Linked DNA regions of Homo sapiens: regions 2, 3 and 4 are each linked to region 1. Evidence: fine-mapped expression QTL. A gene starts in region 1. Each other region holds a variant in brackets. All regions are shown on one strand. Distances are from middle to middle.

Region 1 (8,106 bases):
GCAGTTCCCTGCAGAGCTCTATACCCGAATCTTCTGTCCAAAGACAGAGACCGAAGCCCTCACACTTAAAGAAAGGGTTTGAAAAACAGCCCAAATAAAGTCTAGACCTTCAACCCAAGAGTAGGAGGTCCAAATTCCGGAGAACTCATCTGAAACACCTGATGAGACTTCTGAAGGAAGAGAGTTCACACTGGTACCAAGCGCTGCTTTCAGAGAGAAACACCACCAGCTGGTTGGGGGGAGTCACTGTGAATCCTGCTGACTTACTCCAGATGTTTTACCTAAAAGGAAGAAGCGGAGGCAAAATTAATATAAGTTGGGAGTTTATTTGGGCCAAGCTTGATGACTGCAACCTGGGAACATAGATTCAGGTTGCCTTGAATATACACTCTGAGTAGCAGCAGTTACAAGTGGATTTTTAAAGGGAAAGATGAGGCAGTGCCTGAGTTATTTACCAAGAATTTACATTAAAATAAATCAAGCTACTGATTGGCTATACATTATGAAACTATAGGATGAGGGTTATAATGTCTGGTGCAGCATTAATTAGTAGGTTAATGTTTAGCTTCTGTGGCAATAGTAAGCAGTTTCAAGAGACAAATACACAGTTCAAAAGTGGGGGAGAAGGACAGGATTGCTGTTTCACTTTAATGCCTCTCTGGGCCTCATAATTTAAAAGGATTTGCATTCCTCAGATAAAGTTCTTTTCTTAACATTTAAACAAATTTTCGTCTTGGTATCATAATATAGCTGTCTGTATGTTAACATAGGAATGCTTTAAATTATTTTACCATTTATAAAATTTGTGATGCAGGAAAGCCATGCTATCCTGGGTCTTTACCTTCTGAGTAGCAATTATACCTCAGGGATACACGTTTGTAGTCTGAGAAGTGCTGGCATTTTTTTTTTCCTTTGCAACTCAGAAGTCTCTAATTAAAGTTCTCTTTTAGCATTATTCATTCACTCTTTGATAAATATTTACTGAACATCTTTATTTGCTAGACACATCAACAGGACTGAGGATACAACTGTGAACAAGATATGTATGACTCTTATCTTCATGGGAGCTATCATTTAGAGAGAAAGAAAGGGGAAAAAAGAGAAAATTAAAATATATTGTGATGTGTGCTAAGATAAAGAGGGAAACTTAGAGTGCTAAGAGAAATGTAAAAAATGTTACCTATCCTGTGTTAGCTTGCATAGGAAAAAAAAAATGAAGAAAACTGTCACCTAATCCCAGAGCAGGTGTTGAAGAAAGATTTTCGGCCAGACGCAGTGGCTCATACCTGTAATCCCAGCACTTTGGGAGGCCAGGCCGAGGCAGGAGGATCGCTTGAGCCCAGGAGTTCAAGACCAGCCTGGGCAACAGAGTGAAACCCTGTGTCTACAAAAAAATTTAAAAAGTAGCTTGGTGTGGTGATGTCTGCCTGTGGTCCCACCTACATGGGAGGCTGAGGCAGCATGATCCTTTAAACCCAGGAGGTCAAGGCTGCAGTGAGTCATGTTCATGTGACTGCACTCCATCCTGGGTGACAGAGTCAGAGTGAGATTCTGTCTCAAAAAAAAAAAACCAAAAAAATTTCCAGGACCAAACAGTCTACAGGATGAGCTGGAGTTAGCCAGGTAAAGAATGGGAAAGAATATTCCATGCCTGGCTTAGAGCAAGCTCCGGAGGCTAGAGAGAACAAGGACTCTATGGGAACAAATTCAGTGTGCTAGTTAGTGGGCAGATGTCAAAAGCGCAAAGGAGAAAAGTGGGGGGGGGGTGGTGGTGAGGAAGCTGGAGAGAAAAATCAAGGCAGGTTATGAAGGGCCTCTGTTAAACAGTTTAGAAGGGTATTGAAAGTCACCAAAAGGATTTAAGCTTAAGAAGAACTAATTAACATGTGTTTTTAAAAAAGATTGCTCAGGAACTATGTCTGGAAAAGAACAAGGACTTGACTTACATTAAGGTAAGAAGTGGAATTATAAAATCTGGGGCCCAAAGGAATTGGAGTGAGTTAATTCCTCCCCTTTAAAGTGTCTATTTTCTTCAAAGATAACCACTATATCATCTCTGGGGCTAACATTCTCTGGCCCTTTCCCACTGTCTCTGGCAGCTCCCGACCCAAGTCACTACAGTTACAGCATTCCCTTAAGGAACACATGCTTTTCCAACCTGCTGCAACACAGAAAGCACATGTAATTTTTTATTTTATTGTATTTTATTTGTTTTTCTGAGACAGAATTTCACTCTGTTGCCCAGGCTGGAGTGCAGTGGTGTGATCTTGGCTCACTGCAACCTCTGCCTCCTGGGTTCAAGTGATTCTTGTGCCTCGGCCTCCCAAGTAGCTGAGATTATAGGTGTATGTCACCACACGCAGCTAACTTTTGTATTTTTAGTAGAGACGGGGTTTCACCATGTTGGCCACGCTGGTTTCGAACTCCTGACCTCAGGTGATCCACCCACCTCAGCCTCCCAACGTGCTGGGATTACAGGTGTGAGCCACCGTGCCGGGCCTGGCCTTTCTATCTGGCTTTTTTGATTTGATATCCTAGTAGAGCCCACTATTAAAATTTCCATCTATAGAAACAGGAAGTCAGGAAAGGACTGGAGGGAATTTCGGCAGGTTAATGATTACAACGGGAAGAGAATACAATTATTGAGGTGTTTTGACTCACTTGGTCATTTCCTGAGAAACTCTTTGCTTGAATTTTTCCACTCTTCAGGTGAAGATGATGACACTGTCCAGGCTTTCAGGAGTCCAACCTCTTAGACAATAAGCGACATACTCTTTGGTAACTGCAGTGGCTAAGCCAAGGAATAAATATGCATAACTACAACAAACAGGTACTTGATGAGAACGTTATCTAGAGCTGCCAGATAATTTAGACCAAGTGCACCTTTTGTTGTAAGAAGCTGGTATGATGTCCACATAGTTTTCAGGGCTGCTGTTCCCTCTAAGAAGAAGGAATAGTCTTTTTCCTGAACTACTCTCTCTCTGAACTTTTAGGCTACAATTATGTCAGTTCAAAGTGGGCAGATTTGCCAACTGAAAAAATGATGACACGCAGCTTCCCAACTCTGTAAGGACTTTTCAGGTCTGTGGGTGAACGTCATTCCCGAGCAAACCAATGCCACAAGATTAGTAGGATGCGGCTCACAAGAAATGTTTACAATGAAGGGCATCACAGACTGCAAACCAAACAGGGTAGGAGGACACGGGACCATTTCCTTTTCCTGTCTCCATCTGACTCTGGAAGGCGGGGACAAGACATTTAAAACCAGGACCACTCCAGGAGGACAGCACATTAGCTACTGCCCTCCAGCTCCCTTCAGTGTTGTTTCCGTAAAGGACTTATAAACTGGCGAGGGCGGTGGCTTCCAAAAGCGCACAGGCGTCCCTTTTCCAACTTGGTCTTCTTATTTTCCCTTCCTGCTCCATAACTACAACGTGTTTCTGTTCGTAATCATCTCGGCTTTTCCTTACCTCTGCTTGTAAGAAAAGTCCTTTGCGCCATTCCCCTCCAAGCCCCAGGGAAGGGCCTGGAAAGCGCTTACACCTCAGACCCAGTGTCGGTCAGCCGTCAAGGAGCGAGCGACGTGGGAAACCCTGAGATAGGACATTGGCCCGGCGCTGGGCTCGGGTAACGATGCGGGGCGGGGAGCGCGGGCGGCCGGGGAGGGCGGCGGCCCCTTTAAGAGCAGGCCACGCCCCCTCCCCTCCTCCCGTTCGCTGCCAGCGGTCGGTGGCGGCCGCTACGGTGCTGACAAGATGGCGGCTGGCGGAGCTGTCGCTGCGGCGCCCGAGTGCCGGCTTCTCCCCTACGCGCTACACAAGTGGAGCTCCTTTTCCTCCACCTACCTTCCCGAGTAAGTGCCGGGCCTTGAGCTCGTGCTGCCCCACCCTTCCGCGTCAGCACGGTTGGGCCAGGGGTGCAATGGAGGGCAGCCGAGCCGAGAGGCCCAGGCGGGGCCTGCTGAGGGGGACGTGCGGCCTCCGGAGTCTTAGTTCAGCTGCTGAGAGCGTTGCTCGGCCTCGCTCGGGAAGGGGTTAGGGTCCGGAGAGCGAGCCCAGGGAGAAGGGGCGAGGTGTGTGGCGGATCCGGGGCGCGCACAGGAGAACCGGAAGCCCAGCGGTTCTGCGCTTGGGATTTGGGGGTTGAGGTTGAGGAGGGCTTGGGGGGCGGACGGCTCTGGGGCAGGAATCGGAGTTGGCGGGGCCCTGCCCGCGGGCAAACTACCCCGAATGTCTGAGGTCGTCCGAGGTGGTCGGCGTCGGGGGACAGTTCAGTCGATTGCTGCCGGGACAAAGTGTAAAGCCGAGGAGTGTCTATTCCAGAGTGGGGTCATTAAAAGTGATTAGCTCTAGAGTAGTGTTAAAAGTCACGGAAGGCTGAAAAGTTGTGGAATCCATCTGAATCCTAGCAGGCGGGGAGAACTTGTAGGATTGGCAGACGTTGTCTTTAATGCCTGGAAGTTCTGAAAAAGATAGGGAGTGGGAAGGAGGGACGTTACCGAAGAATTTCAGTATTACGGCTCATTAGAAGATGGGTTTGTATGGACACAGACACGTTTCCCAGTCCGGAAACTCAAACATAGAAACATCTGGCTTTAATGAATTTGATTTTCAACACCGGCTTTGTCTTGATCCCTGATTTAGGTGTTAAAAAAATTCAGTTGCATTGTTAGGTTTTTGTTGGTGGTGTTTTTTTCTCTAGCAAATTCCTTCTGAAATGCTGAAAATACTCTTACATAGTATCTTATTTATCTTTGGCTTATCTTTGAAAGGAGGAGCAGATCTAACTCCAATTTTACATGCTAGTGGAGGAACTGGCTTAGTAAAGGGTTAAGATCTGTGCAGATCCTGAAGAAAAGTGCTAGTTGTCCCTCTAACCATCTCACAGGACCGAAACGATTTTATGAACGAAACAAATTAATGAATAATATATTTTACTGAGTATTTTACTAAACAAAAAAGTGACTAGATCTGTGAAGCATACTCAAGTAAGTTTTCCATCTGTATTTGAGAAATTCTTCACATTTATCCAAATTTGATTTCACTGGTTATATCAATGAAGAATCTCAAAATGGAGCTGCAACTGGAAGAATCTGTCATGACTGCCAGCCTCCCATTTTATTCACCAGGTCAAGGGTTGGCATTCAGTAGGATCTGGCCCAATGAAGGGTGCCAAGTGACCTGTGGTTTGATCTGGCCTGCGTAGCCTATTCATGGCCATATCCCTGATTGATGCTGAAACCCAACTTTGAATTTGAGAGTGAGCCAGATAAACAGTCCAGCCATGTAGTTGGAGTTGAAATGTGGCCCTATGTACTTGACCTCTGATATTCTGGGCTATCTTGTTCTTGGATCTGAAGTTATTCAGCTTTTTTCTATACCCAGGCTAGGATTATGGACAGTTGGGAATTGGTGTGGCATTGTTTGATCTAACTGTAGAGACATTTTTCTGGTCTTGAATTAGCGTATTTCCAGGACGTCACTCCTTAAATTTTTGATGTAGGCCTGAGGCTTGGATAACACAAGTACCATCCGCGTTATCTGTTGTATAGACATTTTAAGAAAGTACATTTCAAGCAGGAAATGATTTAGTGGGATGGCAACTTTAATCTTTTGTGTCTTGTTACTCTGGCCCCTGGTTTGCAGTGGGCAGAACACTAGTTTTGGAGTTAGAAAGCAACAATTTGAGATTGGAGAAATACATTGCTGCAATTTTCTCAAGTACATACATAAAATAGTATTTAATACATACGTAACTTTCATACACTTCCACTTACTATATCTTGTTTAATCCTTATGACATTCTATTGACAAATGCAGTATAATTTGTATTTAAAGTAAAGTATTAGAAGAGTAATCTAAGCTTTTTTCTTTGAAGGAGTATAGTTGAGTATTATGGAGCTGGAGTTGGAGAATATTGTGTCTGCTGGGTTGGTGTGTGCCATGCCTAAATTATAAAACTCTTGGCTCTGAACTTCTATAAGCAAGCAAGGATATTACTTCTCTGTGTGACAGAAGATGTAGGAAAGGGGTTGACTTTACTTACCTTTGCCCTAAAATCCCCTCTAGCAGCAATTGTTGTATCTTTACTGGCAGTGGAAACCATATTAAGGTACTTCTTAAACAGGTCTCATTTTAGGTTAAAGACATTTGTTGAAATTGTCCACAAAGTGGCAAATATTTGTTGGCATAGATCTAAGCATTTCGAGGTGGCAGTAATAAATCAGTAACAAAAATGGTAAACATTTATGATGTGCCGTCCATTTGCTAGGCTCTCTTATGAACATTTTTAAGTGTATCAACTCATTTAATCCTTACCGCAATCCCAAGAGGAATCTCCGTTTGCCAGATGTTGGAAGCAGGTAGGGAGAAGTTTAAACTTGCCTAAGGTCACACAGCTAGATGGAACCAGAATTTGAATCAAGGTAGTCAGGCTCCACAGTCTGTGGTCTTTAACTATAGTGTTTTACTGCTTCTGCACAAAGGTATATATAGTACAGGAAATCAGAACTTTAAAAGAGCTCTTGTATTAAAGGCACTTACATTTTAGTTGTGTAAAGAAATGTGAAGTCATTAAAAAAAATTGAACAATTTTATCTCTATTTTCTTTCTAAGGACTTAGAATTCTTTTCCCCTTCTTCCAGAGGCAGAAAAAACAAATATTTCCCCTTTCAACTCTTTTTAATTTATTTGGACTTTAAAAATGTTAAAGCAGATTCAGTTATAGGGAACACATTTTTACTTTGAGACTAAAAAAAGGCCTTTTATTTTTGTGTGCTTAGAGATTGCCTGTATTTTACTTTTTTTCTGAAATTTACACCTAATTTAATAATTAAATACACTTATTTAAATAATTCATAAAATTACATATACTCTTATACATAAAAATATTTTGTAAACTGCTAATCCCTGTACTCAAATGTTTATTTTTGTATCTAATAATGATGCTAGTTACAATTTAGTGAGCACCTAATATATGCAAGATGCTTTTTGTATACAGTTTTGTTTAATTCTTGGTACATACCTGTAAGATAGGTATTTTATATATGTTTTGTGGAGGATGAAACTGAGGTCCATACAGGGTAAGTAGCTTGCCCAGGGTCATATAGTTTTCCAGAGGCTTGCCAGGTTTTCTGACTTAAAAACTATTGCATTGTGACTTTAATAACAGTCACCACTTATTGAGTACTTTCTATTCTTCAGGCACTGTACTGAGCATTTAGCATGTGTTCTTTGATATAATAGTCTTCACAAAAACCCTATGAGATAAATATTATTATTCTATTTTAGAGCTAGGAAAAGTGAGATTTAGGGAGGTAAGTTAACTTGCCCAGGTCTAAGAGTTGAAAATGTAAGAGGGGCAGGGCAGGGTGGCTCACACCTGTAATCCCTGCACTTTGGGAGGCCAAGGCAGGAGGATCACTTGTGCCCAGGAGTTTGAGACCAGCATGGGCAACACAATGAGACCCCATCTGCAATAATAATAATGATGAGGAGGAAGAAAATGTAGGTGATAAGGTTCTCATATTGGGCCTTTTGACTTCTGTTACGAAAGCTGTTCATTATTATACATGGCTATTGTATATGTCTAATTGAGATTACAGATAAGCGCTCTAAGGTTAGAACAGCAAGAGAGGGAAAAATAGATTTTATCTTGATGTTTAAGATTTTAGTATACTCATATGAGAACTGGGAGAAACTTTGAAAGTATTTTTTACATATTAGGTAATTTCATTGGTATAGAATGATTCTTATCTTGTTTACATATTATTGAATGACTTAGATAATTTAGATGATAAAATCTGATAGATTTTTAAGTGTGTTTACCTTTTTCCTGTTAGTCTTATTACTTAAAATCAAATAGTACTTAAAATAGTACCTTGTGTCAACATGTGATTGATTCATGGTTCAGAGTACAAGTGTTATGATTTGACAACTAGAATAGAAGGTGAATTTATTTCAACTCTTTTCAAAACTAATTTTAAAATTTCACATTTAAAAATGAATATAGGCTAGGCACGGTGGCTCATGCCTGTAATCCTAGCACTTTGGGAGGCTGAGGCAGGACCATCACTTGAGACCAGGAGTTTGAGACCAGCCTGGGAAA
Region 2 (8,106 bases), 170 kb after region 1:
TCCTTAAATAAAAATAATGCAGCCTTATATATGTCTCTTCCCCTCAAGAATGTGAATTTAGGCTGGGCATAGTGACTCACGCCTGTAATCCCAGACCTTTGGGAGGCTGACACGGGAAGATTGCTTGAGCCCAGGAATTTCAGACCAGCCTGGGCAACACAGGAAGACTCCATCTCTACTTAAAATATTTTTGTTTTTTAGCCAGGTGTGGTGGTATGTGCCTGTAGTCCCAGCTACTTGGGAGGCTGAGGTGGGAGGATCACTTGAACCCAGGAGTTTGGGGTGCAGTGAGCTATGATTGCGACACTGCACTCCAGCCTGGGCAACAGAGCAAGACCCTGTCTCAAAAAAAAAAAAAAAAAAAGAATGTGAATTTAGCTCCAATTCCAAATGACTAACTCTTAGGCCAGTCATAGCCAATGAAATCATCTGACGGTAGCTTCTGTAGCCCTTAACCTAAGGAGTCATTAGAGGTTATAGTAAATTAGTTTCTCTAGTGGTGCAGAGAGAAATGCCATCGGGGAAATTATCACTGTCTTTTTGGCTAAAGTTTTATATTGTGAACTGGATCCCACTTAACAGCTTAAAAACACAAAAATGAAAGGGTAGTCCTAGTTTATCTTCTTAATTAGAATCATTATTTGGAAATAAGATTTGCAATGTGCTGTCTATCCCCAAACACTGCTGAGCTTGCTGGAAAACAGAATTTAACATGAATGTTGTCTGAAAGCTGTAGGATCAATGGCAAAAAAGGGGAAATGTTTGGTAGGGAATTGGACCAGTTCTAAGGTATCACTTTTAATTATAAAATAATGTCTTCCTTTTTATCTGCTTTTCAGACAGCCTCAGTGAACTATTAAACATTTGTGTGCAAAGTCCTATTTTGCTTATCTAAGGCATTTTGACTTGGAAGTATTAAACTTCAGGAACGAGCTAGAGAAGACAATGAGGGTATGTTAGAGAAGGAAAAATAGGAGCTTTTTGCTTATGGATTTTAGAGGTCCACAAATCGAAAGGAAAAATAAATTTCTTCATTTCTAACCCTAAAATAATTTTGTTAATGAGATGCTGGGAAGAAGACTACCAAAAGGCCTCAAAGCTCATGCTTCTAGAATATTCAGTAATTCTGAATAGTCTTTGGGAAGTAGCATTTCTTGGGAAGTAGCATTTCCCTTCTTCCAAATAACTGTTTGAGATCTTAAAACAGAAAATCCAGTGTTAATGGGCTCTAGATCTTAAACTAGGTGAGCAGCTTCTTACATACAACCAGTTCCTTGTTAAGGATCCAGCAGGAAAACCAGCCATAAAACATTTCAACATGCAGTTTGGGGGCTCCCTTGCTTATTCACTGAGTTTAAGCTCTTGCTGCAACATAGCTCTGTACCATCTGGGATGCTAGCAGTCACAGCAGTTAGCTCAGATATCTGAGCTGTCTGCCACACAAAGCCTGAGGAGATCATCATTCTTCAGTTTCATTCATTACTTAATGAATGCCAAATTAATTGGCAGGAAGAAGAAACACTGTGTGATATACTGAACAAGCCTGTGTGCATGAATAAGGAGCCACTCAAAAAGCCAATTTTGAGCTTTATTTCTCCGTTGTTAACAAATCTCAAGAAAGCCTTTGTTACAGTTTAGCTCATGTCATTTGGTTGGTTTTATTTTCTAGCCCTTTAACATAGGAGGAAAATTGTCATTTCATGTATAACTTGTAACACAGAATTGAACTGATACTAGTTTCCTTGCCTTAAATTAATTATATGTCATCCCAAGGGTCTCTGTTAATTCTGCTTTGCCAAGCAATAATGAGATCTGGGTTTGGCATTAGAAGTATTTCATAATTTTGGTTTTTTATTTAGGTTTCCTCCACATCTGTAAAGTGATTGATTAAATTAGAGGAGGCGTGTAGAATAAATCCCAATCCCATTGCAACTGGCAGAGCTTTATAAATCTTTATAAATTCAGTTACAACAAAGGAGAGGATCCTACACCATTAGAGCCATGCCATCAGGTGTTTGCAAGTGACAGCTGTAGTGTGTTGCCTCAAATAATACCAAGTTATAAATAATACCAAGTAATTATCAACTCACTCCCAAATTTAATAAGATATCAAAGTCCAAAAGGTTACTTAGGAGTAGTCTTCCGTGGGGGAAGATAAATTTATTAAAGAGTCATGTACTGATCTTTTTCTTGGGATTTTTTTTCCTTTCCCAGAAAAAAAAATTATTTTGGTGACTGATCAATTGTAAACAATTTTCTTCCTTACTTACAAATCATCCGTTCAGAAAAATAAAAGTGGACTTCCTTTCCTAAGCATTACAATTAGCCTGGGCAAGAGGTGTTATGATTGTCTTATTCTTTAAGCCGGCTTACTTTTTGGATTTGTGTGAAATGTCTTTTGAAAAGAAAGTAGATAGTATAGTATTAATTAACTACTTTGTATAGTCTTCTGCATAATTTAGAGTTGAAAATAATGTAACATTTTCCTGTGAACAGATTCCTTTATGCGTACATACTTTATAAATATACATACATACACATACACATACATTTTTAAAATGCTCTTTTTAAAGAGATTCTTATCTTGCTCCCACTCCAAAAGCTATGTACAGTTGAGTTATTAGCCTCAGAGGAAGAGTACAGGAAAGCGAAGATGAGGACCTCCTTTTCTTGTGTTGGTCTTGGGAACAAACAGTATTCCGTCTTTCAAATATGGCATATTTCTAAACAGTTTGGGAAAGATGTTAGAATTTTTTAAAAGTCAGCTCTTTTATAAATTGGAAGTACTCAGTAGTCAGAAATTAAGATCCCCTCTGATAGAGATAGATTCTCAAAACCAAAATTGGACTGAAAATTAGATTGAGAAGAAAGATACAACTTCCTCCATAGCCAATAAAATCTGTCTTTCCAAGTCTGCTTATTAATGCTGTGAATCGCTCCTTCTGTTTGTGAAAACATCTCCTGGACTGGAAATGTGGTGCTGTAACCAGCTGAGCCGAAAGTTGGAGAATGTTAAATATCTTATATGGGACTTACGATAAAATGTATTGATGTTAGTGATTGTCAAAATAGGTTTATCATTTAAAAAACTAGGAAATTACTAAGTATAAAGAAGAAAAACCAGTATTAATTAAGTGATGAGACCTGTTCATTTTGTTTTCCCTGACTTATTTCCATTACCAAACATAGTAAAGGCCAGAAAAGATTAAAAAAAAAATTAACACAGCCATTCCATTGTTTTTTACCACATGGAGAAAGGACCAGGCTGGAAGCATATGTCCCCCCACCCTTATTTATATTCCTTTGAGCATTGCCGTTTTCTAGACAGACAATCCGAAAATAATTGTGTTGATAGGTCTGTTTAAGCCTGAACTCTGGGTGTAAAATGTTATCCAGAAGCTATAGGGAGCTGCCTTGCTCAGGTCATTGGAAATTTCAACCCTAAGACTCATTGGAATTTCTAAGTCCGTTATGCACCATTATGGGCATATGGAGCATATTCATACCATGAGGAGGAGTCTTTGTTTATGATGGACTTTTTAATATGGCCATAATTAAACTCACACTCAAAAAGGATGAGCTATTGTCAAAAGCCAAAAGAAAAACAGACAAAATGAACATGAAGCAAGGAGTCCATAAAACAAGAGTTCTTTACCACGTTTAAGCAAATGTCTCTCAAAAAAAATTGTATTTCTGTGCACATTAGCTGAGATTCACACATTTTGCACCTCAGTAGTATTTCAGATGAGACTCAATGTGTGGAGAAAAC[C/T]GCTAACTTGTTTGGTTCTACTCTTACCCCCTCTTCTGTGGCAATGTGGGGTCAGGGCCGTATCCTAAAGTATCCACATGGTCTTAAATGGAAATCATGGGACTCTGGAAAGCTGGCATGAGCTGGTTGGAGCTTTTAAACAGAAGTGCTTTATGGGTATCAGATCTCTTCTGACATCAATTGTTTCAAATCATTGTTGGGCTCTGTCGTGTTCTGCAATCTTCCCCATTCCCCTCATGATCTCTGGCTTATCTTTTATCCAATCTGTATGGACTTTTTAGGATTTTTTTTTTCTTATAGTACAAATAATTTTCAGATCCCAGCTTTGGTAAATGTGTTAATTCTACTTTGTGAATAAATAAATGAGTGATCTGCTAAAAATGGCAATTGTAGAATTATGTTGTATGTAATGTACATATGGAGAAAGAATGTATTTTGTTCATTTTCTTAATAAAATGTTATATATGGATGCTACAAGATATCTCTTGTATTTGCTCAAACTACTTTTGAAGTGAACTTTTAAAATGTTTTTGTACTTTACAGTTGTGTTTTTTCCCCCAGAAAGGTGAGTTTTATTTAGGCTTCCAAAAGGAAAGTGATACGCTTTCGAAGGGCCTTTGGGTGTTTTCCTTTGAGACGGTGCTCAGATGAACAAGTACCGGCCATGCTCACAAAGTTTCTGCGGGGAGGCTTCCACTTATTTAAAGACCACTGGTAAATTATTTCATGAAATGTTCTTCTATCTACTGTTAATGACCACCCTTATTTTATTTGCTTTGTCCACTTGGACTTATGTTCCTCTTTAAAGGGGATATGCTTGTACAGGCTGGAACTAGAAGGAAAGACTGAACTGAAATGGAAAATTCACTGTAGAAAAGATAGTAAAGGGAGAGAACCTAGAAGTGTTGCAGTTTGGGAAAATTCTGGATCCCTGTCCCCATTAAAGGGGAAAGACACTTTATGGGCCAAATCTTGAAAAAACTAAGCTGAGAAATATGCCAGATAAAAGTCCTGGGTCACTGGGGCCGAGTGGTGGGACTCTTAGTAATGAGATCCCCTCTCTGCCCTTTCCACCTCCTGGTCTGCTTTACATCGTGGCTTTGTGATCATGCATTCTGGAGTGAATTGTCAGCTGATTTTATTCCAAACAGGGATCATGCTTTCTCAGTTTACAAATTGAATAATCCAAACCTTACTGCAGAGCTTTCATTTCTAGGGTGTCCTTTGAGTGTGGCCCTTAAGTAACGTTTCTTTGTGTTCTCAAAACAGGAAAGCATGAGGTGCAGTGATAAGGTAAGGAATCGGCCTTTCCTTGGTCAGTCCTCCAGAGAATTAACTCAAAAGGATCAAAATGCAGGACACTACCCTTGATATATTTGTCACTACCTTCTGGTGGGAAGACAGCAGTAAGTAAAGAAGGCTTGGCCCTAAACACAGATGAGAGCCAGCTGCTCCCAGGTCAAGCACATGTGGAGACTGTACTACAGAGCTTGGAAGTTGCTGCGTTAGGAGCTTCTGCCGCCAAAGGAAGATGACCGAGCATCTAATAGGGAAATGGCTGTGTGCCCATGCTCCTGTAACTTCTCATATAAATGACGACTGCAGAGTCCCTAGAAACGGGGAGGGGGGGGGCGTGGGGGGGGTTATTTTCCCTGTAAATGAAGGCAACATTGGTTTATCACTAACTGTTCAGATTCTGAAGGTATTAATATGACTGGAAAGACCATCTGAGGCTTGTACAGTTCTGGCGTAAGTCAAAATCCTGGTTGATGACATTCCTTCTTTAGCACCACGTATGCTACATCTTCCTTTGCCTTTTACATTCTTAGAGAAAAGGAAGAGGGGACTGGAGACTTGGGCTTTCTGGGGCATAGGGCAGTTGGGGCAGCAGAGGATGATGCCACCATCCTTACTCTACAGCTTCACTATTGTCTTACGGGGACTTTTTTCCTGTGGGCTTTCACCCAGCAAAAGCAGCAGCCGTCAATCATATCCTTGCCAGAGAGATTCTTAATATAGGAGAAACTGTAATAAGGAGAAACTACGTAGAAGTAGCCTGCCTAGCACTACGTTCGTAAGTTTTAATGGTTGGCAAACCCCGAGAGGTGGTTAGGACCCTTGGCGATGTACATAGCAGCATTGTACAGCTGCCCTCTAAACTTGGGACATAGAATGGAGAGTCCAGGAGGAATTGGGAATCCTGGCTTTCATTTCCTGATGACCAATGACTTCTGCATAATATTGCACAACTTCTCTGCCTCATTTCTTCTGTGAAGTAAATACTGGCAGCAGATCTTGTTGGCTAGGATCCTATTGATTTTCTTTTTAGGACAGGGTCTCACTGTGTCATGCAGGCTGGAGTGTAGTGGTGTGATCATAGCTTACTGCAGCCGCCAACTCCTGGGCTCAAGTGATCCTGCCTTAGCATCCTGAGTAGCTAGGACTACAGGCATGTGCCAGCAAAACTGGCTAATTTAAAAAAAAAAAATGTAAAGATGGGATCTGGCTGTGTTGCCCAGGCTGGCCTCGAATTCCTGAGCTCAAGCTATCCTCCCACTTTGACCTCCTAAAGTGCTGGGATTAAAGGCATAAGCCACCATTCCCCACCAAGGTCTTTGAAAGCAATAGATATCTCAGTGTTTATCACTAGTGTTAATTATGTAGCCAGTTCTATTCTTTATTTACTTTTTTCCCTTGTGGTACAGAAGAAATCTGTGATTTGGGAGGGAGCTTATAGGGAAGGTTCTGAGTGACAAATGAGCATAACACATTTAAATTGACAACTGAGCGTGTGTCTTGGTTGGCAGGCAGGGATCAGGGTGAATGACCTACTCAGAAAGAGAATGGGATCTTAGGTCTAACTTGTGGCCCACAATAAGCTGTGGGTCACTCTTAGAACAGTGCACCTCGACCATGGCCAGGGTCCTGTGTGAGTTCCTTGTACTTGGACTCCTTTCTGTATCCTTGGCACCCTCTCGAAGCTAACCTCAAAATTACCCGGGCCCAACTCTAGACCTCTCTTCAGGGTTTAACTGCTTTTCACAACAACTTTCATGGAAGGAAAATCATGTTGTAACAGTAGTTGCATTCTAGAAATGTATTTTGCTGTTGTTGGAACTCTGGCATTAACGTGATACTGAGAAAAGAGTGTAGGACTAAAGAGCAAAAAGAGAATCAAGGCCCATGCTGCCATTTAAATGGTTGTGTGATCAATCTCAAAGAGAATACTTAACTCCTGCATCTAATTTCCCTAGTGGGGACAATTCCTATAAGATAGGTTTGTAAACCTATAGGTTTCCTATAAAATGGTTTGTAAATGGTAAGATGCTAGGCAAGTAGACAAGATTGTTGTCTAGCAACTAAGATTATGGACCAGTTCTACCTGACAGTTTCCCTTCTGCAAGTTTGGAATGATGAAGTTTACCCCTTCCGATGAAGAAGCATGCAGCTGTGGATAATACCACACTAGGAGATGAAGAAAGAATCATCTCCAGTGATTCCTTCCTTAAACCGCTATCTATCTTCACTGCAGACCTGGAGGAGGGATAGGCAGAAGCCTCTTGTGGCAGTAAACAGATCCTTTTATGGCAGAAACAGGGCCAGAACAGAGCTTTGTTTTTACATATATATATATATATATATATATATATATATATATACATACACACACACACACACACACACACACACACATATATATGTATATATATAGTCTCTTTGCCAGTGTTTTCATACCTGATCAATGTTCAGCAGCCCTCTTGGGGATTTCTGATAGTGGTGATTCACAATGTATCTGAGGCAGAAGTAGAGGGAAGGAAGACAGCGAAACATACAACGTCATCTTAGGGGAAAGTGAGGTTCTTTAGAGTCACTAGGATAGCTTGAGTAACATAAAGACTCATAACCACCTTTAGGATCCCCCTTTTTTTTTCTTCCGGTTTCTCTCCTTCTCTTGCCTAATTTCTTTGCCTGCAGAGTTGGACAAGTGTAACTCAGCACGGAGGCTCCTGTGCTACGGGTGTGAGCCGACATTCTCAGGCACTTTGGCGATGAGCCTCATACACAAGTGAAGGCTTTAAGAAGTCCGAGGAAACTACTAGAGCTTGAACCAGTTTACACAAAAACACTTTAATTGACAGTATACAATTTTCCAAAATATATTTTTGTAAGAAAATGCAATAATTATTAACTATAGTTTTTACAAACAAGTTTCTCAGTAAATTCCAGTGTACTTCAGACCCCTGTCCACTAAGACATATATGATCCCCCAGTTCCTGGGCAAACTGTTGAACATTCACTGCAGACAAAAAGACCAACACCAAAGAGTCATCTGTGTC
Region 3 (8,106 bases), 440 kb before region 1:
AGATGCAACTGTTACGCAACAGAACACACTGTGATAAGACATCTTGAGTTGGGTCCTTGTTTTCACATAAAGCAAGAGGCTAGTTTCCTGAAAATAAGTCTCCATGAAGAGACTGGCTACCCAGTTAACGGCAAAAAACCCCCATGGCTCACTAGTAAAGAGATGGAAGAAAACCAGTTGATAAATTAAAAAGGGCTCATTCATTCTCTTTCCAGGGCATGCATAGGAGAACAGAGTGAGACAAGTGGGATCTGCTTATTTTGTTGAGTCTTTCAGTGACTTTCAGCTGCAAGGGCAACTCTACTGAGAAGGAAAGATTTCACTCAGTAAACATTAGCATGTTTCCAACCCTGCCTAGCCTCTCATTTCCAACAATCAACTTGATTGTTCTGTATTTTTAGGCCAGGATACACTAGGGCTGAATTTCTGTAACTCAGGATGTTCTATTTTAATCATCAGCAATTTTAAGGCATGGCAACATCTGAAAGAAAAAAAAAACGTAATGACTCTTTCTTACACACAGAACATGCACTTAAAATTGTCAAAACTCTCCATCTCCAGCATTAAAACAATCATCTTTCAAGAACAAAATCCTTTCTCAGTGTCTCTCAGCCCACAAGCCATGAGAATGTGTCTCCATTTCAAAACCCAGTCTGTACCGTCATGCTTCCGCTGTTTCTCAGCAAGCTGCCTTTCTTTGTAACTTTTTTCTTCCAAATCTGATTGATAGTGAAGCTGGAGCCTGAGATGTAAATTAATAAACCACACCAGGAACTCCTTGCATGGCAAAAGCTGAACAGTACAAATCCATTGTTTTCCTGGATGTGAAATGCCAGTCTGTTCTTGCATGAGCAAACTGGATTAAAGTCACTTTCCTTGGGGCCTGCGGATTTCACAAGGAGAACTGCATCTGAGCAGGACACTTCTTTAAGATGTAGCTTCAAAATGTTTGGGACATTGGACACAATAGTCCTAAGCTGAGTATTCAGGCCGGACTATGGGTGCAACTGGTACTGCCCTGACGAGGGGCCACACAGCTCTAAGTCCTTCTTTGTTGCCCCATGTGCCTTGAATGGATGTTTTCTTATAGGAAGCGGATGAACAAGTTAACACAGGATCTGGCTGGGCTGCTTACTAACTATGTGATCCTGGGCAAATCATTTAATTTTTCTGAGCTTCGGTATCCTGATCTGGAGAATGGAGATGCGAATTTCTATATTGCAGTGGTTGTTAGGGTCATATGTAATGCAGTCTGTAAAAACAGTGGGTCACTTTTAAAGCACTATGTGAATGTTTGGTGTTTTATCAGCTGGATCAGAACACTGGAGTGCTTTTGAGGGAGAAGGCCAAAATGAACTGAAAAGTGATGGGAAGTGTACTCTGTGAAATAGTCATAGCTTCCATTTTTGGAACACTTAACGCATGGCAGACACTATGCTATGTGCTTCACATGGACTTTCTTGGCATTCACAACCACTAACATGGTTGGTGGTGGCATCTTCGTCTTTCAGAAGAGGGGCTAGAGACTTAGAAAGGGTACATGACTTCACTTCCTCTTGGTCACAGAGCTGGAGTGGCAGACTGGGACTCAAACTCCAACATGCCTGATTGCCAGCCCAGGCATTCAGCCAGCACTCTTTACTGCTCTGTCCTTTATACCATTCAGCGCATCTTCACATGGACCTCTGAACAGTCACTGGCCCCAAGTCTCAGGGTTTCATCAGTAAGTACATGAGTAAACCATGAAAGCCAGCTTTGGTCATGAGGAGTAGAAGTAGCACCAAATAGCTCACCAAGAGAAAGGGAGAAAAATTGGAAATTAGCACAATTTGGCTTGCACTGAATGGTCAGAAGACCTGGACCCTCCACCACACTTCTGACATGCAGTGTGACCTTAGGCCAGTCCCATCTTCTCTAAAGCTTCATTTTCCCACTAACCTTAAAGAAGTTCAAGTCAAAGAGCACAGTGATGAGTCCCACAGATCATGCTTGAGATGGTGACAGTGTTAAAATACTGACTCCAAAATACAGCCTGGCAGTTTATCTTCTCGAGTTTCCTGTTTCTATGACACTGTACGGTGAGATGGCCAAATGCAGACTCCAGAGCCAGAATGCCAAGCTCTGCCACCAGCTCCTCACACAACCCTGCACAAATCACTTTAACTCTCTGTGCCTCAGTCTCCTCATCTGTAAAATGAGGGTAATAGGCCGGGTGCGGTGGCTCACGCCTGTAATCCCAGCACTTTTGGAGGCTGTGATGGGCGGATCACGAGGTCAAGAGATTGAGATCATCCTGGCCAACATGGTGAAGTCTCGTCTCTATAAAAATACAAAAATTAGCTGGGCGTGGTGGCATGTGCCTGTAGTCCCAGCTACCTGGGAGGCTGAGGCAGGAGAATCACTTGAACCTGGGAGGCGGAGGTTGCAGCAGTGAGACGAAATCGCGCCACTGCACTCCAGCCTGGCGACAGAGTGAGACTCCGTCTCAAAAAAAAAAAAAGATGGTAATAACTGGACCTAGCACATAAGGTTGTTGTGAGGATTAAATCAGGTAAATATGATGAAGCCATCTGAACCAGTGTTAGCACAATGTAAATATTCAGTAAATGGTAGCTATGATAATAAAAGTAATACATTAGTTTTCAATAAGCACATTATAAACAGAGATGTGGCTAAGAGATCCACCACAGCTGGTAAATGGAGAGGGTGCAGAGATCCTGCTGTCACATGCTTTGCCATACATTGACATATTCTGGAGTAACTGACTGCAAAGCTGAAATGGCATCCCCAACTGAATTTACTGAAATTCATATATTTAATATTTTTGACTGCCTTCTCTTCTTCCCAGTCTAAGACCTGAATATGGGATCTATACCCTTGTTTTTAAGCAGGAGTTCATGTTATAGATTCTTCCTGACCGTAAACCGGGAGTTGGGTGGTTGAGAGAAAAAGAGTAGAGATCAAATACTAATGATCATTTAAAAAAACATATCAGGCTTGTCAGGCACGGTGGCTCACACCTGTAATCCCAGCACTTTGAGAGGCTGGGGCAGAGAATCACTTGGCCCAAGTTTGAAACCAGGGCAACACAGGGAGACTCTGCCTCTACAAAAGAAATTTTAAAAAACTAGCCAGGCGTGGGTGGTACACGCCTGTGGTCCCAGCTACTTGGGAGGCTGAGGTGGGAGGATCGCTTGAGCCTGGGAGGTTGAGGCCGCAGTGAGTTGTGATCACACCACTGTACTCCAGCCTGGGCAACAGAGCAAAACCCTACCTCAAAAAAGAAAAAGAAAAATGTACTGAGGAATCATCCAGGGACAAAATAAAACTCCCTTGAGGTTGACTTATAAGCAGAAGCCTCTACTTACGTAGGTGTAAAAGCAGTCTGTTAACAGATATTTTCCAGGCACAGAAATCCTCAGGAGGCATTTGTTCAGAAGACCTGCACCTGGAATTTAAATGACAGTATGAGCTCCTAGGAAATCTCCTGGAGTAACAGCAGAAGAAAAAGTCAGTTGTTTTCTCGTAAACATGTTTCTCCACCAGTGTCACCAACAGATGCATTTTTAAAAACA[A/G]GAAATAGAAAGCACCTTCTCTTTCCTGCTTAAGACACACAGGTTGGGAAAGTTCCTGTACAGTGAGCAACACATGCCCCCTCATGCTGGTGCTCTGTGCGGGAGAAAACGTGAGGTGTGGCCGTTGCTAAGGAAACCGCTGACACGAGGCAGAGCAGCAAGGTTTGCTCAGCAAGGTGTCTTAGGAAATAAAACACAGTCTAAGCCTATAGATCCCATCACAGAAGAAAGGCAGGCAAGGATCCCGCACAGGAGACGGTAGAAGGCTTCTATTTTCACAACTGATTCTGCAGCCTCGTGCTGTAGCAGTACAGGCTGCAGAAGGTTTGTGGAGGGGAGCGCCGGTCTGCAAGGACGGTCTGTGACGGCTTCAGAATCAGGTGGAGGGCAACTGAGAAGAATGGAAACCACCTCACATTCTCTCCTACCTGGTCTAACTTTACAGACGAAATGCATCTTTCAGCTGCATCACAAGAGAGGAAGCCAAGGTCGTAGGGTCTTCATTTCTGAAAACTGATTGTTCAAGTAAATCCTTCAGTCGTCCCCCTGATGCGACCTGCTAGGGAAGCTGGGAGTGCCTTCACAGTGGCTCCAAGGGGGTGTCCTTATAGGGGATTACATCTCAAGACACATTTTACCCAGCAAGAGGCTGCATGACTCAGCAGTCTGATGAAGAAAGCTCTGTTAAGTTACCACCAATTGCAATTTCTAAGTTAATGATTACAGCTCCACCGAGGAACCAGAACACAGCTGAGGCCACAGAGCATTCCCCGTGCTTACTGGCCAGTGGGGATGATGTTGCCCAGATGTGTGGGTCGGAGCTGAATGGTGAAGACAATGATTTGTGATTCGCAGGTGGACTCTTTAAGCCAGGTGCTACTGAACATGCTCTTCAGTGACTGGGAAGCTCTCAAGAAAGATGATATCACAACAGGAACAGATTATGTTGGGAAGATTCTTGAGAGTTGAGATTAAAATCCAAGAGGAGCTCGGCCAGTAAAATAAATGGTCAGAAAAAGCCATTTGATACTGTCCTACAACAGAAAATACATCTAAAAAATCAAGCTGAGAAGTACAGATGGGAAGGAAGAGGCAGTGGGGTAAAACAACAATCAAACCAACGTGAAGCTACCGAACACACAGAATTCTGGAATATTTAAACACTATCATAATAGCATGTTTCCAAAATTGTCTGATTATAAAAATGGGTATAGAAAACCAACGTCAGACAGGAGCTCTTTCATTTTTTTCTTTTTTTTTTTTTTTTTGTGAGATAGTCTCACTCTGTCACCCAGGCTGGAGTGCAGTGGCATGATCTTGACTCATTGTAACCTCCGCCTCCTGGGTTCGAGCGATTTTTTCTCATGCCTCAGCCTCCCAAGTAGCTGGAGTTTTAGGCGTGTGCCACTACACCCAGCTAATTTTTGTATTTTTAGTAGAGATGGGGTTTTGCCATGTTGGCCACGCTGGTCTTGACCTCCTGACCTCAGGTGATCCGCCCACCTCGGCCTCCCAAAGTGTTGGGATTATAGGTGTGAGCCACCGCGCCCAGCCCTCTTTCACTTTTCAACAGTAACTGAAGTCTGTGTCAGATTGTGAGGAACACCTGTCTGCTGCTTTCTGGAAGCTTTCAGTATTTGAAAAAGTGGCTAGGGAAGCTGCTGGGAAGTCCTTCAATTAACCTTAAAAAGCATGTAATAAAACCTAATTATAGAGCATGCTTCTTTCATCCTCTCTGTCACTCCTTTAGAGAATGTGGTGACTTTCTAAGCCACTGTCCCTGCAACCTCCTAGGATTTAGATGTATGAACATTATTTACAGATGGGAAAAACAGAGCACTGAAAGTTTTGGTCAAGAAAACCGTACGGGTTAGTGATGGGGTTTCTCAATTGTGAAGACCTGAGCTTGACAAATGCATTTTCAGCTTCCCAGGATACCCCTGGCTCCTCAGTGAGCACTGGAAGTTTGTCCCTTCTATAGCAGCCCTTGGCAGTTCCAGTCTAGGGGCAGAAGCCAGCCTGCCACTGCAGAGAAGAGCAGCAAGTTCCAGCCCAGCCGGCGAGCACGCTGCACTCATGGGCTTCCCAAGGCTCTGGCGGGAAGTCACGGGTCAAGTGAGGTCTTCTTAGGTGCTCAACAGTCACACTCTGGGGCCTGAAAGGTCTTAGAAGCTTATCTCTGTCAATCTCTGCTTAGAATCAAATCGATCAATCAATACCTTTTCCTTCTCTTTGCTTCTCCTACTGAGCCCCAGCATATTTGAGTGAAGGTACTTACATGTACGTAGCCTTTTAAAAGCCAAGTACTATCAAGTGAGCTCCCATTTCAAGGCACGTTTGAACTGGGAATAGAAAGACGGGCAGCTTAAGCTTTGGGATCATACAGACCCGGATTCAAATTTCACTTGTTACACAGCCTTGGCAAGCTATTCAATCCTTTTGGGGCTTTAGTTTTTTGTTTTTGTTTTGTTTTTTTAATTTATAAAGTAGAAATGATGTTAACTCTCAGAGTTGTTGTGAAAACACAGCTGACTCAAATAAAATACAAGATACATAGATTTTCAACACATTAACCCCCACCACCCCACCACTTTCCCCTGTGAGGGGATGGCACATCTAACATTTTTGGGTAAAATTTCCAGAAGATCTATACAGTCGAGTTGTTAAAAACTGGTGTGAAAGACTAAAATAAGATTAGGCATCAGTAAATCAAGGCTGCGGGTGGGTCTGGGGGCTTCTCTGGAGGGAAAGGCCAGACCAAGGGATGTCCCAACAGGAAGTTAGGAGTCTGGGGAAAGACAGATATGATCTGAAACTGGGACCAGGAAATTCCAACCATTTCTGCCTACTGATTACTCATCATTGATTCACCAAGTTTACAATTTACCAGGAGGATATGGGAGCAAACGAGAGGTAAATCCCACTGAAGTTTAAAACATAAAAATAGACAATGACAGAGGGTGTCAAAGGAAACCACAGGGCATGGCGGGGGCAAACACAGGAGGCGCCGGTCCCCGTGAGCCAGACACAGGAGGGACATGCCACTTCTTCCACGAGGGACTAACTAGCAGCAATGCTGCAGAGACACAGGTCACTTCTCAACATTCCTGGTCAAGACAGACCTCTTAAAATCATGGGTAAATATCCACCGACTGCCTCCTAGAAGCCCGCACTGTGCTGCACGCTGCTGGGGAATACTGAGGAGGGGATGTGAAATGTCTGTATGTGACCCAGGACCTAACTGTGGAATGGAGTCCAATTCTCAGGGACAGAGAAAGTGCTCCGGTGTGTCCTGCTGGTGGAGAGCACAATCGTCATTGGAGACTGGATGAGCTCAGGGCAGGCTGATGGATTATTCAGGAGAGGCTTCATAGGGGCCAGGGGCCTGAGCTGGGCTCTCCAGGGGTGCAGCCTGGGCAGGGGAGAAAGGGAGAACTCTAGGAAGGGGACGGTAAAATCATGCCAGATGTGGCAGGGGTGAAGACAGTGGGGGATTGGGCAGAGCCATGGTAGACATCCCACCGCCAGGGATCAGAGATGACAGGGCAGCAGGCGTGCGGGGGTGGAGCCCACATGTAGATCCCCCGCCCCCGCACACAGGGTCAAAGTTAGCTGGGATCAGGGATGACGGGGGGGTGAGAAGAAGCGTGGATTTTATGAAGAGTAGAAGAAACAGATGTTTGTTAAGACCTAACATGTGGGAGGCACTGCTGTGGACAGGAGTGAGTGAGACGCAGGGCCGGTCTTCATGGAGTTTACAAGCTGGCGGGGGATACAGCCCTGTGGACAGATAACTGTCATTACACGGGCTAAACACTAGCATAGGGGGAATTCTAGGAGATACAGGGACCCACAGGTATGGCACCAGACTATGGGGTCAGAATAAGATCTCACCACAGAGGTATGAGCAAAAAGAAACAGGATATGGTCTGTTCCTTTCAAGCTTCCCACAGGGGCCAGGAGCCCCTTTTGCAGGATGTCTTAATAAATGGGACATAAAGGTACCCATTTGTCTAGAGTGCAGTGTTGGCTGCAGACAGTGAACATATGAAATGATGCCCTTAAAATGCCCTTTGGCTCAAAACGAGTCCCCTTCCCTGACCCTAGCTTTAGAAATCAAAAGGAAGATGATCATGTCATGGGACCCCAAATTACACTCACACTGCAGGTGAAACACTGGGGTGACTTTCACACGCACAGCTAAGAAGGAAGCCAGTTTCCGTATGACTGCAAGTGCACAGAAAATCTAGCATGCCGAACAGGAGGAGCAGTGGAGGGGAGTGCTCGCTTAGGAGGGACCCAGGAGCATGCAGAGCCTCTGTCCTGAATCTGCTCCCTCTATGTAAGGAGGCCATGAATAAGGTACCCATTCCAAGAACAACAGCAAGGGGAGGGTTAGGAGACATTCTCATCCAATGTGAATATAAAAATCTTAAGAAGAAAACAATACCCACTGCTTTCTGTTCCATTGTCCCAGCTTACTGTGTGATTTTCTGTTAGGAGAACTGTACCCACAGCTTTAATTTGATGC
Region 4 (8,106 bases), 43 kb before region 1:
TTTTGAAATCAGGAACTATGCCTCTTCCAACTTTGTTCTTCCTCTTCAAGATTGTTTTGGCTATTTTGGGTTGTATTTCCATGTGAATAGCATGATCAGCTTGTCAATTTCTGTAAAATAAAAAAAAAGTTGGGATTTTGATGGAGATTGCATTGGATTTCATTTTTCAGGATTATTCATTGCTAGTGTATAGAAATACAATTGATTTTTGTTTATTGATCTTGTATCCTGCCATATTTCTTTTCTTTTTTTTTTTGTTTACAGTCTTGCTCTGTCACCCAGGGTGGAGCGCAGTGGCATGATCATAGCTCACTGCAACCTCCAACTTGTGAGCTCAGCAATCATCCCATCTCAGTCTTGTGAGTGGCTAGGACTACACATGCACACTCAGCTAATTTCTAAATTTTTTGCAAAGATGGGGGTCTCACTATGTTGCCCAGGCTGGCCTTGAACTCCTGGCCTCAAGCGTCCTCCCACCTCAGCCTCCCAGAGTGCTGGGATTACAGCCACCATGCCCAGCCACTGCCACATTTCTGAGCCTGTTTTATCTTATACTCTTATCATGGTGCTTTACTGCTTACTCTGTGGGAGGCATCATGTTAGACACTAGAAATAAAAAGATGGGCTGGGCATGGTGGCTCATGCCTGTAATCCCAGCACTTTGGGAGGCCAAGGCGGGTGGATTACCTGAGTTTGGGAGTTTGAGACCAGCCTGACCAACATGGAGAAACTTCATCTCTACTAAAAATACAAAATTAGCTGGGCATGGTGGCGCATGCCTGTAATCCCAGCTACTTGGGAGGCTGAGGCAGGAGAATCGCTTGAACCCGGGAGGCGGAGGTTGTGGTGAGCCGAGATAGTGCCATTGCACTCCAGCCTGGGCAACAAGAGTGAAACTCCGTCTCAAAAAAAAAAAAAAAAAAAAGAAAGATGAAGAAAACATGGTCTTTGTCCTGAAGAAGCTTATAGCCTAATTCAAAAAGTAAGACATAAACTTATTGATTAAACAGTAGCCCTTGACAGCAACATACAGGGAAGTACATAATTGCCAAATGAATGTTACCAGATGATTAGAGATCTAGCAAGTTCAGGGGATGAGGAGGGACGTGGAGGCTATAGAGGTCTAGGAGAAATAGAGGAGGAGGGATCTGAGCTGGGTTCGAAGGCTCACCTCCTTCCCTTCCTTCTTTCTCCCCTTCCTTCTTTAATTTTCTTATTTCCTTTTCTCCCTTTTCTCTTCCTACCCATCTTCTTTGAAAACATTAATAGAATATAACCATGGTTGGTTATCATTTCTCAAACCTGGCGATCATCAGAATCTCTTGGCAAGCCTTTTAAATATACAGATTCCAGAGTCTCATGTCAGACCTATTGTATCATATTCTCAGATGGTGGGGCATGGACAACTGCATTAAAAGTTTTATCTGATTTTCAGCCAGGTTTGGAAATTTCTGGATATGACTATAGTCATGATTTCCACACGTGGACCAATCCTCATCTTCATTCCACTGCAGCTCTGACTCTGTTTAGGATGCTCACAAGGCCAGCAGGTCACACGGGCACCTAGTAAGGGAGGGGAATTGGGCCTGTGCAACAGCTCCTCCGTTCATGAACAGCATCTCAATCTGCATACGTTACTGAGAGGGCTCTTCAGTGTCATTTATGTTTATGGGGATGGCTCATTATACAGATCAAACTTTTATTTTCTGTAACTGAGAATCTAAGAATCTCAAAAGATCCTTCCGCTGTCGATGGCCATGACCCTCAGAGTTACCTGTGGGATATGGACTCATTATCCAGATTTAATAAATAATAACGGCTTGCCATGATAAAACCTTCTAGTTACAAGAGAAGGCCCTTCCCTCCCTCCCTCCCTCCCTCCCTCCTTCCCTTCCCTTCCCCTCCTTCCTTCCTTCCTTCCTTCCTTCCTTCCTTCCTTCCTTCCTTCCTTCCTTCCTCTCTCTCTCTTTACTGCTTTCTTTCTTCTCTTTTTTTTTTTTTTTGAGACAGCATCTCACTCTGTTGCCCAAAACAGGCTGGAGTACACTGGTGCACTCACAGCTCACTGCAGCCTTGACCTCCTGGGCTCAGGTGATCCTCCCACCTCAGCCTCCCGAGTAGCTGGGACTACAGGCATGCACCACCACAGCTGGCTAATTTTTGTATTTTTTGTAGAAACAGGGTTTCATGATGTTGCTCAGGCTGGTCTAGAACTCCTGGGCTGAAGCTGTCTGCGCATCTTGGCCTCCCAAAAATGCTGGGATAACAGGCGTGTGCCATTGTGCCCGGCCGAGAAGGCCCTTTCATTTCAACTCTCTCCAGAGGTAACCAATCTGTTGAAGACTGTGAGTGTCCTTCCCACATGTTTTTATAGTTTTACTACACAATAGGCAAGTTTTGCATGTTTAAACCTGTATGTAAATAGTGTACATATTTTTTTCTGTAGCTTTTTTTCTCAACATTGTGATTTGGAGATTTATCTGTGGTACTTGTAGAGCTAATCCATTCTATATAACATAACATTATATTATATAATACTGCAATGTAGTGCTCCATTGTGTAAATGTTCTAGAATCTATTCTCCTGTGGGTGGATATTTGTTATGGCCAGTTTTTTGCTATTCCAAATCATGATGTAAATCATGCCCTGGTGTACGTCTCCTTGAACACATGTGTGAGAGTTCTAGGGAATATATCTAGAACAAAAATTGCTAGGGAATAGGATATGCGCACTTCCGACTTGACTAGATTGCCTTCCAGCTTACTGTCCACAGCAGCTGAACCAATTGTTATATATCTCATCAATGATATACAAGAATTTGTCTTGTCCCACATTCTAACCAACGCTGTCAAGTTTTTTAAAAATACACATATCTAAGCCCTATTTTCATAGATTCTGATAGGTTCACTCTGGAGTGTGGTTTGAAATAGGCTACAGGTGGTTCTAAAACACAAATAAAGTTAAGTCTGCTCCAAGTATGCATGTGTATATGATCTAATATATTGATATGTGGATTGTCACGCTGAGGTTACTCTGGTGCTCTGTTGGTAGCATCTATGTTGGCTGGATTTAGATGTTTGAGGAAAGGGTGGGGAAGTACCACTGTCCAACATACAGATACACTTTGAATAAAAAAGCGGTCTGTGATTTACCAGTGCACTGGGCTGTAGTTGATCTAAAGCCCTACCTTTGCCAGCTACGTGAATAGGGTGGGCCCTTTCTAAGTGCTGCCTTCCCTCTCACCAGGTGTGTGGCTGGGTATCAGCTGTCAGGGCTTGCATACGTGCGGTCGCTTAGGGCAAGGTGCCTGTCAGCTATGTCTGCCAGCCCGCTGGGTGGTGTCACTGTGTGGAGCATTTGTGGCTTTTTCAAAGCCCTGAGGAATCTGAGAAGCAAGTGAGGGGAATGATGCATGAAAACAAAAGGCAGTGGAAAGAGTGACCAGCCAGCAGGCTCCAGCAGGCTAGAACGCTCTGTCCTTGTTATTACTGCTTCAGGAAAATGCTGCCAGCTTCCTGGCAGGGCCTGGAAGGTAGAGGCTTCTTGAGAAAACAAGGATAAGTGATG[C/T]GTACTCTGAGGCTGAGATTCCGGTTCCCCAGCCTCCCCGCTTTTCCAGCAGAAGCTGCAGGGTGAGGATGGGGAACCGTTTGCTCCTTGGTGGGTTTGGCCAGTCTTTCATTCTCTCCTGGCTGCTGTCCTAAGAGTTTTTTCTCCTTTCTTCCACTCATAAGCAGCACGGCTCTGGTCTCAGAGGCCTAGCAGGGCTGGCCTGGGAGGGAAGCTGGGCGGTGCCCTAGGCAGAGTTGTTCCCTGAGGAGTGATGTGAAGGTCAGCCTAGGGGAGGAAAAAGGGCCTCAGCCATAATTCCCATTCAAGGAGTGTTTGCCAAAGATGAACCTCCTGGTGTGGGGCAATGAGACACGGGATGCGCTCATACCTTGTCCACTTTCCCCCTGGTACTGCATTCACAGGATAGCCTAACCCAATTTTCCGAAATGAGGTAGAAGCTCAGCAAAGGTAAGCGTTTCCATGTTAACTTATTATCAGATGGATGTGAGGACCTGTCGTAATTGGACTTGCCGAAAGTCAACTTCTATTTTCCCTCCTGACAATCACCTTTCTTTGGCATATAAAATACATGGATGCAAATTAGGGAAGAAGTCAGCATTCTTTTCTTCTCTTAAAAAGTAGCGATGAGGATAAAGAATAAAAATAGGCCTCTGTAGATACAATAGGGCTGAGCTGAGGGTGTGGTTTGCTTGGCAACAGCTCAGGCAAAGCTGTTTCTCTTGGTCCTGGAATGCCCTTGACTTCACCTCTGCCTGATGCAGTCTTAAGAGACCAGCTTGATTGTGAGTTTTTTTGGTGAAACTCCCATCAATAGTTAGTCATTCCCTTTTTTCTGGCCCCATAGCATTTTGCTCTTATAAAAACCATTCATCATATTGCGTGACAATTACTGACTTGGGATCATGCCTTATTCTCTGCGTGTGTTTCCTCAGCATCTATGGACTTTTTTTTTTTTTTTTGAGACACAGTTTCACTCTGTCGCCCAGGCTGGAGTGCAGTGGCGCCGTCTCACTGCAACCTTCGTCTCCCGGGTTCAAGCGATTCTCGTGCCTCCACCTCCCAAGGAGCTGGGATTACAGGCATGCGTTATCACGCCGGACTAATTTTGTATTTTTAGTAGAGACAGGGTTTCACCATGTTGGCCAGGCTGGTCTCGAACTCCTGATCTCAAGTGATCTGTCTGCCTTGGCCTCTCAAAGTGCTGGGATTACAGGTGTGAGCCACTGCGCCTGGCCAATGGACTATATTTTAACATAGTAGTTCTTTGATAAATGTTTATTGAATGAATCAAAGTTCCTAAGAAGATATCAGTCCTCAGCTCTTATATTTTCTTAATTATCCCCTGCCTTTTCCTTTGTGGGGTGATCTGCAAGCAGTTTCATCTGCACGTGGAATGGAGGACATGCTAAAAGTAAATGTAGCTTTGTTTTTTTTTCCTCCCCCAAGGAATTGCCTCAGTAGGAATGGGTGTTTCAGATATATCATTCTGTTACAGGTACAAAAAATTGTTTCCAGGAAGCACTGCCATCATTATCTCTGAGAGGCAAGTCAGTAGAAATTGTTATTTTCCATTTACAGATGGACAAATGGAAGGTTTCTTTCTCATTTACCAATTACAGAATGTCCACTCTGTTTAAAGTACTGTGCTAAGATTTTTATGGGCTACAAAGATGTACAAGACAAGGTTCTTGTTTCGAATAAGAATGTCATAATCTTATTTGGATAAAACAATATTTATATAACAAAAGAACTACAACTCAGGAGCATATAGTTTGAGGCATATGAGTGGTCCCAAAAGGAGCCCCAATGGGCCAGGCACGGTGGCTCACACCTGTAATCCCAGCACTTTGGAAGGCCAAGATGGGTGGATGGCTTGAGGCCAGGAGTTTGAGACCAGCCTGGGAAACATAACAAGGCCCCATATATACTTTTAAAAAAATTAGCTGGAAGTAGTGGTGCACACCTGTGGCCCAGCTTCTTGGGAGGCTGAGATGGGAGGATCGATTGAGCCCTAAAGATTGAGGCTGCAGTGAGCCACAATCGTGCCATTGCACTCCAATCTGGGTAACAGAGTGAAATGAAACCCTGTCTCAAAACAAAACAAAAAGTACCAAAGGGAATATAAAAGGCAGGCAAAAGAATGTCCAGCTAAAGTGATCAGGTATATCCTCCTGTCCCATCTGAGATGAACAGGTTTTGTGCTGGTTATTCTCCATCTGGCTCCTGTCCTGGTTTTCTGTGACTGCCGTAACAAATTACTACAAACTGGATAGGTTAAAACAACAGAATTTTATTTTCTCACAGTTCCGGAGGACAGAAGTCTGAAATCAAGTGTTGGCAAGGCCACACTCCTGAAAGCTCTGGGGGAGAATCTTCTCCTTGCTTCTTCCAGCGTCTGGGGGCCCCAGGCCTTCCTTGGCTTGTGGCCACTCCTCTGAGGTCACATTGCCTCCTCCTTTTATCTCTTAAAGTTTCTGCTTCTCTCTTATAAGGATACATGTGATTGCATTTAGGGCCTACCACAGTGATCTAGGATAAGGTCCTCCTCTCAGGATAAGGTCCTCCTGAACTTAATCACATATTTTGCCATGTAATGTAATATTCCCAGGTTCCAGAGATTCGGCTGTGGGCATGTTTTGTTGGCGGGGGAGGGGGAGGAGAATATCATTCAACCCATTATAGCCCTGATATGGTTAGGCTTTGTGTCCCCACCCAAATCTCATCTTGAATTTTAATCCCCATAATCCCCACATGTTTAGGGAAAGACCAGTGGGAGGTGATTGGATCATGGGGGAGGTTCCCCCCATGCTGTTCTCGTGATAGTGAGTGAGTTCTCATGAGATCTGATGGTTTTATAAGGGGCTCTTCCCCCTTTGCTTCTTACTTTTCTCTCTCCTGACGCCATGTGAAGAAGGTCCTTGTTTCCCCTTTGCCTTCTGCCATGATTGTAAGTTTCCTGAGGCCTCCCCAGCCATGTGGAACGGTGAGTCAATTAAACCTCTTTCCTTTATAAATTGCCCAGGTTCCAGTAGTATCTTTAAATTATAGCAGTGTGACAGTGGATTAATACAAGCCCCATGTCCTTCTCTGCCACACTCTGTTCCCGACAAGGATGTTACCCCACAGATTTCGTCCCCTGGGAGCCAGTGCCCTCTGGCTTACTGTTGGGTTTGTCCAATGGCAGGCATCAGCAAGTATCAGAGGGTAGGAGGCAAAAGAGGTTGAGATATTTCTTCTCCTTTCCTCCCTGCTTTAGCGCCATGGGTTTGGCATTAGGTATGCCCCTTCACAGTTCTAGCTCTTTCTGGACTCTGATAAACTGTTTCTCTTCAGGCCTGGACTTCTACTGCTACTCGACCTTGGGTGCCTCAGTATCCGCTTAAGTTCCCACCACCCTCCCTACATCCTTGTAAATATCAATTTCATCAAATGATTTTCAAAATCCCAGCGCAATGTGCCTTCAGTTTTGTGCCATGATCTTGAGTGATAGAGATTCCAAGAAGCAAAAATTTAATTTTCAGAACGGAGAGATATACTCAGGTTACCTCAGTCTAAGCTTAAGACTAATACAAGCCCCATGTCCTTCTCTGCCACACTCTGGCAACGAGGAGTGGGAAGGTGATTCAGCACACAGTGCCGCCCTAGCAACTGGGTTATCTTGTGGGCCCTTCAGTAGTCAGTATCTGTTGCTTTGCACTCTAATTATCTGCTAGTATTGTGACTCTCCACTGCCCTTGCTGTTCAGTACTTTCTATTCTTTTCTCATCTCACAGCTTCTATTGCTGCATGCTTTTTGCTGCCACATGACCTCAGCTTTCTTCCTTCTCTCTGTGTATCTTTTAGTTTCTGCCCATTTCTAACTGCTGACTCTCTCTTTGTATTTCATATTCAACTCAACAAAAGAATCTGCCTAGTTTGGCTGTTCACCATCAAGTGCAGGTGGTTAGGCAGAGCCTTCTTTTAAAAAAAAAAATTATTTTTTTAAAGTAGAAGTAAATGGGGGTCTCACTGTGTTGCCCAGGCTAGTCTTGAACTCCTGGGCTCAGGCAATCCTTCCACCTCAGCCTCCCAAAGTGCTGGTATTACAGGCATGTCCATCATGCCCGGCTATCAAAGCCTTCTTGACAAACCATCTCATGAGCATAGGTCTGATGCCCTAGATCAGGTGTCCCCACCCCTGGCCTAAATGGCTTTGTTTGGAATGGCAGAATAAATTGTTACGTAATTTGGTGTCCTGTCTATTAGAAACCTAGAAGGGGGTTTATGGGTGTGGCAGACATGATGACACTTGCAGGAAGTGGGGAAGGATGGTTATTAAAACCTACAAGTAGCCAGGTGTGGTGGCTCACGCCTGTGGTCCCAGCACTTTGGGAGACCAAGGCGGGAGGATCCCTTGAGGCCAGGAGTTTGAGACCAGCCTGGCCAACATAGCGAGACCTCATCTCTACAAAAAATGAAAAAACAACCCCAACCGCAAATCCTTACCAATGGACTTTAATAAGCTACAGGATCTAGTACCCACTTGTTTCTTATCTC

Direction of the effects. Alleles are on the strand shown, and positions count from the first base shown. SD is a standard deviation of normalised expression in the study named. Not every link is listed here.
In carriers of allele C in region 4, the expression in thyroid of the gene that starts at base 3,732 in region 1 tends to be higher than with T alone (small effect, 0.19 SD a copy in GTEx).

Evidence for each region.
Region 2: its variant is fine-mapped to the expression of MKLN1 in whole blood (TOPMed, PIP above 0.99).
Region 3: its variant is fine-mapped to the expression of MKLN1 in whole blood (TOPMed, PIP 0.98).
Region 4: its variant is fine-mapped to the expression of MKLN1 in thyroid (GTEx, PIP above 0.99).

The regions. Positions count from the first base shown.
Region 1 is chr7:131,324,145-131,332,250 of GRCh38, forward strand. It overlaps MKLN1 (muskelin 1), which reads left to right and starts at 3,732. Exons shown (of 18, transcript NM_013255.5): 1 at 3,732-3,853. The coding sequence starts at 3,756. MKLN1-AS (MKLN1 antisense RNA) reads right to left here and starts at 3,635. Exons shown (of 6, transcript NR_125364.1): 1 at 3,471-3,635; 2 at 2,662-2,791; 3 at 159-281. RefSeq lists enhancers at 3,497-4,073, 3,768-4,067, 4,074-4,650 and a silencer at 3,558-3,717.
Region 2 is chr7:131,492,390-131,500,495 of GRCh38, forward strand. It overlaps MKLN1 (muskelin 1), which reads left to right. Exons shown (of 18, transcript NM_013255.5): 18 at 1-4,243. PODXL (podocalyxin like) reads right to left here. Exons shown (of 9, transcript NM_001018111.3): 9 at 7,882-8,106. Among named protein-coding and RNA genes, the nearest start is that of PODXL, 60 kb to the right of the region's middle. The variant C/T (reference allele first, on the strand shown) is at 3,770.
Region 3 is chr7:130,880,949-130,889,054 of GRCh38, forward strand. LINC-PINT (long intergenic non-protein coding RNA, p53 induced transcript) reads right to left here. Exons shown (of 8, transcript NR_170176.1): 7 at 3,369-3,448; 8 at 44-1,788. Among named protein-coding and RNA genes, the nearest start is that of MIR29B1, 7.5 kb to the left of the region's middle. RefSeq lists an enhancer at 5,529-6,728. The variant A/G (reference allele first, on the strand shown) is at 3,576.
Region 4 is chr7:131,281,445-131,289,550 of GRCh38, forward strand. It overlaps a transcript of MKLN1 not described here. Among named protein-coding and RNA genes, the nearest start is that of MKLN1-AS, 42 kb to the right of the region's middle. The variant C/T (reference allele first, on the strand shown) is at 3,568.